2 linked regions of the Homo sapiens genome follow. The protein of the gene in region 2 interacts with the protein of the main gene of each other region in a pairwise test. Each region holds a gene or a part of one and is shown on either strand. Other genes may lie near its edges. The genes, in order: PINK1 and FEZ2.

Region 1 (3,500 bases), on a different chromosome or scaffold from region 2:
TGCGGCTACTCGGGCAGATGGTCTCTGCAACAGGAAGGGAAGCTGTAGCTAGAACATCTGTTAACACAGTCTCAACCCAAAGCCTGCTTTGTTAGTGAGGGTCTTCCCTTCTCTGGTCCCAACCCAATTCTTCCTCTACCCTATCTCCTACTGATGCCCTTCACTCAGGTGACAAATACTGCCTGTCCCCTGCCCGTGCTCCAAGCTTTTCCATGTGTACACCTCTGCATGGGGCAGCATGCATTGTTGAAATAGCCTTTCCCCCTGGGTGGAAAGCCTAGTGCCTCTTGTGCACAGCTATCTGGTCCCTTGAACCAGGTAAGTAGTCTCCTCTATCATTTCATAACTGGTTGCAGCTGTTGTTCTAACCTTCACTGCGCACCAAGATAGCAGGCCACGTACAGAGAGCAGTTAACGGAGTGGCAGAACAGTGCTGGGGTGCAGGTATGGCTCAGCTCTTTGCACTAAGCCTGCCCCTGAGCCAGCTGCCACTCCAATTATGGCTTCGGATAGGTCTGCCTTTGCATTCCTTTATATTAATTTCACAATGTCCAGATCTGCTCTCAGGAGATGTTTTCCATCTCTCTCTGATCAGTTCTCAGCTGCTTCCATGAGCTACATCTCCATTAAACATTTCTCAAAAATGCCTCCTTTTCTCTCTCTGAATAGCCTTTTTTTTTTTTTTTTTTTTTTGAGACAAAGACTTGCACTGTCACCTAGGCCAGAGTGCAGTGGCGCGATCTTGGCTCACTGCAACCTCTGCCTCCAGGGTTCAAACGATTCTCCTGCTTCAGCCTCCCGAGTACCTGGAATTACAGGCGTGTGCCACGACACTCAGCTAATTTTTGTATTTTTAGTACAGACGGGGTTTTACCATGTTGGCCAGGCTGGACTGGAACTCCTGGTCCCAAGTGATCCACCCGCCTCAGCCTCCCAAAGTGCTGTGATTATAGGTGTAAGCCACCGTGTCTGGCCTCTGAACAACTTTTTCAGCAACTAAAAAAGCCACAGGAGTTGAACTGCTAGGATTCTGACTATGCTGTGGTGGCTAGTGCTCCTACTCCTACCTACATTAAAATCTGTTTTTTGTTCTCTTGTAACTAGCCTTTACCTTCCTAACACAGAGGATCTGTCACTGTGGCTCTGGCCCAAACCTGACCTTCACTCTGGAACGAGAACAGAGGTTTCTACCCACACCGTCCCCTCGAAGCCGGGGACAGCCTCACCTTGCTGGCCTCTCGCTGGAGCAGTGCCCTCACCAACTGTCTCACGTCTGGAGGCACTGACTCGGGCAGTGCAGGTAGCTGAGCCTCTTGGTAGCTGCGGCTTTCAAGGTGGGCCTTGCCCTGGCCGTAGAAGGGATTGACAAGCCCGAAGATTTCATAGGCGATGGCTCCCACTGCCCAGGCATCAGCCTTGCTGTAGTCAATCACTGCCCTGGGGCCAGGACGGGCCGTGGACACCTGCTCAGAAGCAGTGGGTGAGACATCACGCTGCCCGCCCATCTAACCTTTTCATGTCCTGCACATCACCTGATCCATGGGCTAATCTGAACTCTGTCCCAAGGAACCCAGAGCTTGAGTGAGCTGTGGCTCAGACCCAGAAGGGGTCTGCTTAGACCACCTGGTTTATGTGACAGGACTTGCATTCTCCTGGAACATGAGGGAACGCCGGAGGAAAGCAAAGTGGCAGGGAAGGAACTTGTGCCAAATTATGGGTCAGAAAAGATGGAGGTGTTGGGTTATCACAAGGCATCGAGTCTCCTGCATTCAGTGGACATGTGGGGGAAGGGCTGCCGATGGCGCATGACACACTCGGGACTCACCTCTGGGGCCATCAGACAGCCGTTTCCGCCCCGATCCACGTACCAGCTGCTGAAGGGCAACTGCAGGCCGATGCTCTCATCAGCCAGGCAGCAGCCAAAATCTGCGATCACCAGCCAGGGGCAGCCGTCTGGGAAGGAGCAAGCAAAGTGACCATTTCTCCTCCCCTCCTTCCCTCTGAGAGGCCCTCCTATGTCCCTACTAAAGCCACCAGCAAGACATAGCTGACAGGGGCTAATGGCTCAGTGTTGGCCCAGGAGGTCAGCAAGGCCTGAGAGCTGATCAGAAGGGCCTGCTGTGCGAACACGGAAATGCCTCCAGTAAGTACAGGCTGCAAAATCCCCAGGCAAAGGACTGTGTGGCTCAATTTAAATCATGTTCTAGTAATTGGAGCTGTCCCCAAGACCAAAGGAGCTAGAGCTTGGTTCAAATGATCTCCAAGGGCCCTTATACCCCAGGAGACTTTGATTTGAATTTGAAACCCCAAATCCAAACCTAAGAACCAGGTGCATTAAGAATCAGTTATTGCCGGGTGTGGTGGCCTGTAATGCCAACATTTTGGGAGGCCGAGGCGGGTAGATCACCTGAGGTCAGGAGTTCAAGACCAGCCTGGCCAACATGGTGAAACCCCTGTCTCTACTAAAAATACAAAAAAACTAGCCAGGCATGGTGGTGTGTGCCTGTATCCCAGCTACTCGGGAGGCTGAGACAGGAGAATTACTTGAACCTGGGAGGTGAAGGAGGCTGAGACAGGAGAATCACTTCAGCCTGAGCAACACAGCGAGACTCTGTCTCAGAAAAAATAAAAAAAGAATTGGTTATTTGTAAAAGGGTCCACACAAAATTCCTTTAAAAAGCCAGTTCCTGGCTGGGCGCAGTGGCTCACGCCTGTAATCCCAGAACTTTGGGAGGCCGAGGCAGGCGGATCACGAAGTCAGGAGTTCCAGATCAGCCTGACCAACATGGTGAAACCCCGTCTCTACTAAAAATACAAAAATCAGCCAGGTGTAGTGGCGTGTGCCTGTAATCCCAGCTACTCAGGAGGCTGAGGCGGGAGAATTGCTTGAACCCGATAGGCAGGGGTTGCAGTGAGCCAAGATCATGCCACTGCACTCCAGCCTGGGCGACAGAGTGAGACTCCGTCTCAAAAAAAAAAAAAAAAAAAAAAGCCAACTCCCAGCTGGGCGTGGTGGCTCATACCTGTAATCCCAACATTTTGGAGGCTGAGGTGGGTGGATCACTTGAGGCCAGGAGTTTGAGACCAGCCTGGCCAACAGTGAAACCCCATCTCCACTAAAAATAATAATCCCAGCGCTTTGGGAGGCCGAAGCAGGTGGATCACGAAGTCAGGAGATAGAGACCATCCTGGCTAACATGGTGAAACCCCGTCTGTACTAAAAATACAAAAAAATTAGCCGGGCGTGGTGGTGGGCGCCTGTAGTCCCAGCTACTCGGGAGGCTGAAGCAGGAGAATGGTGTGAACCTGGGAGGTAGAGCTTGCAGTGAGCCGAGATCATGCCATTGCACTCCAGCCTGGGTGACAGAGCGAGACTCAGTCTCAAAAAAAAAAAAAAAAAAAAATCAAAAATTAGCTAGGCGTGGTGGCACCTGCCTGTAATCCTAGCTACTCAGGAGGCGGAGGCACGAGAATTGCTTGAACCTGGGAAGCAGAGGTTG
Region 2 (4,024 bases):
ACTCAGCAGATTAAAATGAACAAGGGAACATCTGTCTATCATCTACCTATCTGTCATGACATGACTATTCAGGTGTTGAATGGAACTGAAACTAGAACTCTATTCCTCAGGAAGGATTAGCACACACTGAGTTTCCAAAGAATAAATGGGCAACAAGGATTACGTAAGAAGCCACCATGTCATTCTATTACATAGTGTAGAACTAACATGATAAAATTTTACCTGGCAAAATTATTTATCCATGCAGAGGATATATGTCTAAAGCTGAGGACACAATGGAATGGATGTAGGTTCCTACTGCTTCCCTAGTTCTTCATAACATGAGCATCTGAAGTTTGCAGGTGAACACAGCCTACAGAGTAAGAAACCTGCACGTGAGAAGGGCCAAGGGAAGAAGCACTGGCACACTGACTTTCCAACATTAGGCTGGGAGAAGGGCCCCATCAACACTGCACGGTCCACCTACAACCCTATAATGCAACTCCAGGCTCCTGCGCAGTGACGACAGCCCTTCTCATTTTATTTCTTACTGCACCATCAGCCTAGCAAAGGCCTGGCCATGACCTTCAACACAGCATCATGAACTAAGAACACTGTGTGGAAAAAAGGAGAATCTAAAAGCTTCCAGGGAGGGAAAAAAAAATCACATTAAAAGGATCAGGAATCAAAATGTCAAGTGAATTCTCAATAGCAACAATAGATGCTAGAAAATAATCGATGTAACTTCCATGTTTGGAGAAATTCCATCCTAGAATCCTATATCCAGCTAAAACAAGTAGGCAGGGGCTAGGATAAAGACATTTTCAGACATACAAGTTCTGAAAAAATTTACCTCTCATGTGCCCTTTCTCAAAAAGCTACCAGGAGGAAAATGAAAAAGAAAAAAGATATGTGGTCTAATAACAAGTGACAAAGAGAATTCTCGTAATGATAGTAAAGTGAAAATCCCAGAATGATGACTGTAAAGCTACACTAGAGAGTAACATTCAGATTAGAATTTTTATTGCAGAGAGCATGGAGAAGAGGGAGAGGTGGGTGGGGAGGGAGAGCAGAAGGACTAGATAGATTACCTAGTGCGGTCCATTTACTAAAATGAGTTCTACGGCTCTATTGAGGCTGAACTGGTCAGCTAATTATAAACTAAATAAACCACAAAAAGGCAGGTAGTATCCTAAGAAAAAACCTAAGTAGAAAAAGAGAAAATGTAAACATAATATATCATAATGGGTCAACTGTGCACATTTAAATAGTAAATATAAATGATGAAGATTAATTCAACCCCAGATGTTATGTAATTACATTGGGAAGATGGGGAAAGGGAAGTTTTTGGGAGGGTATAGTGTCAGGGATTGGCAAAGGACAGAAGAGAGCTAAACCTTCACCCTCTGGGTAGAAAATAAATAAAGTCTAAAATTGAGAAAATAATATCAAGTAAAATGGCATGAGCATGTTATCTGCTAAAAGAAATAGCTGATATCATTTAAAGTGGCCACCTCTGGTAAGGAGAAATCAAGTGGAGCAGAGACTGCCTTTTCATTTAAGTCCTATAGTTCTAATTTACTTTTTAAACTATGACAGCTGTTCCTTTAATAATTTAATTTTTTAAAGAAGGAGAAAGATCAAGAGACTAGGCTCTTGATGAGAGGGGATGTATGATTTCTATACTGTAGAAGATGAAAATGTGGCACACTGTGATCACAAAGGCATGTCGATACCATGGAGTAGACCTACCGATTAGTTTCATCGATCCTTACACTTCGAACACTTCACACCCCCTTCCCAATCACTCTTCCTATGTTGCAACTTGAGGACCATGATTTTGTTTTATTTTTCCCCTTCTGGCTTATAAATACTAAAAGTTTTAATTTTAAAATTAATCCGGGGTGGGCACAGTGGCTCATGCCTGTAATCCCAGCACTTTGGGAGGCTGAGGCGGGTGGATTGCTTGAGCTCAGGAGTTTGAGAACAGCCTGGGAAACATGGTGAAACCCCATTGCTACAAAAAATTAGCCAGGCATGATGGCACATGCCTGTAGTCCCAGCTATTCAGGAGGCTGAGGTGGGAGGATCACTTGAGCCCAGGAGGTGGAGGTTGCAGTGAGCCAAGATGGTGCCACTGCGCTCCAGCCTGGACAACAGAGCCAGACCATGTCTCAAAAAAAAAAAAAAAAATTACTCCTAAGGAAGCCCAGGTTGCCATGGCTCACACCTGTAATCCCAACACTTTGGGAGGCCAAGGTGGGAGGATCTCCTGAGGTCAGGACATCAAGACCACCCTGAGCAACACAGGAAGACCTCGTCTCTACAGAAATATATTTTCTTAAAATTAGCCAGGCATGGCGGTACTCGTGTGTAGTCTAGCTACTCAGGAAGCTGGAGCGGGAAGATCGCTTAAGCCCAGGAGTTGGAGGCTGCAGTAAGCTATGATGGCGCCACTGTACTCCAGCCTGGGCAACAGAGGGAGACACTCTCTCAATCTATCAATCAATCAAATTGCTTCTGTGGAAGACATTATCTTTTTCTTATTTCTACTCTTAAAGGTATAAAGATGCATACAAAAGTCCCTGTCCTGAAAGAAATGCACATGGAAGGAGAAATACAGCACAGAAGATGTTCTTAAGCTGAAATGAATGATAAGCATTCTATCATATAAGTATATTCAAGAATGGCACCAGATTTAGAATAGGGTTATGGCCAAAACACATGAGTAATAACAGTAAACTATTATAATAAATTTCCATGACAACAGAAATGATCCCAGATCATCTTTCCAGAGAGAGAGCCAAGTCCATTCCCCACAGAGATGGCATATGCTAAGAGCTGGAATATCTTTCAGGCTTTGCAAACTAGCCCTGGCTGTCATGGGTATCATTATTCACTCCTCCCTTCAGCATTAAATGTGCCTTCTCTTTGCCAAGCATTCCCATCACTCCTTCCAATGCCAGGGTTAGATACAGACCTGGTGGTACTGTTTCCCTGTATAAAACTGAAGATACATCAAATGGAAAAAATGTGCCCACGTAAGAATTTGAAAGATACCAGTTGCCTTACTCTAAAAAAGACATATCAAATTTAGAAGTGTGCCATCTTAATCTTCAATCAAAGAAAAATTTAAAACTGCAATCTAGCAAACTAGTTTTCCTGAATGTTTTTCTCTTTTTAATGCAAAAACCATTCTTCTTTTGTCAAAAAAAATTTCTATACACTTGGTTTTATAAGTAAAATAATCTAAAGAATGCTTTCAAAGGGTAAATTTTACATAGCTTAGTCACGGCACGAACAGAGCACCAGGTGGCAATGGTAAATACAGTCACTTTGCCAGATTAAAAAAAAAATGCTTAATTATATACCATGTAATAGAATGACGTGATGACTTCTTACATAGTCCTTATTGCCCATTTGTTTTTCAGAAACTCAGTGTGTGCTAATCCTCCCTGAGAAACAGAGTTCTGATTTCAATTCTATTCATCACCAGAATAGTCATGTCACAACAGAGAGATGATAGGTGAATGATCACGTGTTCACTTTCATCTGCTGAGTTTTTCCAGGTAAGGCTGTTTTTTTTTTTATTTTTTGAGACAGAGTCTCGCTCTGTCACCCAGGCTGGAGTGCAGTGGCGTGATCTCGGCGCACTGCAACCTCTGCCTCCCAGGTTCAAGCAATTCTCCTGCCTCAGCCTCCCAAGTATCTGGGATTACAGGCATGCGCCACCACGCCTGGCTAATTTTGTATTTTTAGTAGAGACGGGGTTTCACCGTGTTGGTAAGGCTGGTCTCAAACTCCTGACCTTAGGTGATCCATCCACCTCAGCCTCCCAAAGTGCTGGGATTACAGGCATGAGCCACCGCGCCCAGCCAGGTAAGGCTTTTTAATGTCAGTACTAGCATTAAACTCTACGTCATTACTAATCACTGCCTTGGCCATATCATTACCGTGGCATTGAAAATAACATTCAAAAGGCAGCAAAAGGGAGCAACCTCCCAAGATGCAATCTAAGAACAATACAAGACATACAGCAGTCCCT

Evidence for each region.
Region 1: the proteins of FEZ2 (region 2) and PINK1 interact in binary tests that used the Homo sapiens proteins (3 or more experiments, as listed by UniProt).

The regions. Positions count from the first base shown.
Region 1 is NC_000001.11:20,646,958-20,650,457, reverse strand, and holds part of PINK1 (serine/threonine-protein kinase PINK1, mitochondrial precursor), read right to left. Parts: intron 2,144-3,500; exon of another isoform or gene 1,954-2,143; coding exon 1,826-1,953; exon of another isoform or gene 1,464-1,825; coding exon 1,227-1,463; exon of another isoform or gene 25-1,226; coding exon 1-24. UniProt on the Homo sapiens protein: Serine/threonine-protein kinase which acts as a sensor of mitochondrial damage and protects against mitochondrial dysfunction during cellular stress.
Region 2 is NC_000002.12:36,584,472-36,588,495, forward strand, and holds part of FEZ2 (fasciculation and elongation protein zeta-2), read right to left. Parts: intron 1-4,024. UniProt on the Homo sapiens protein: Involved in axonal outgrowth and fasciculation.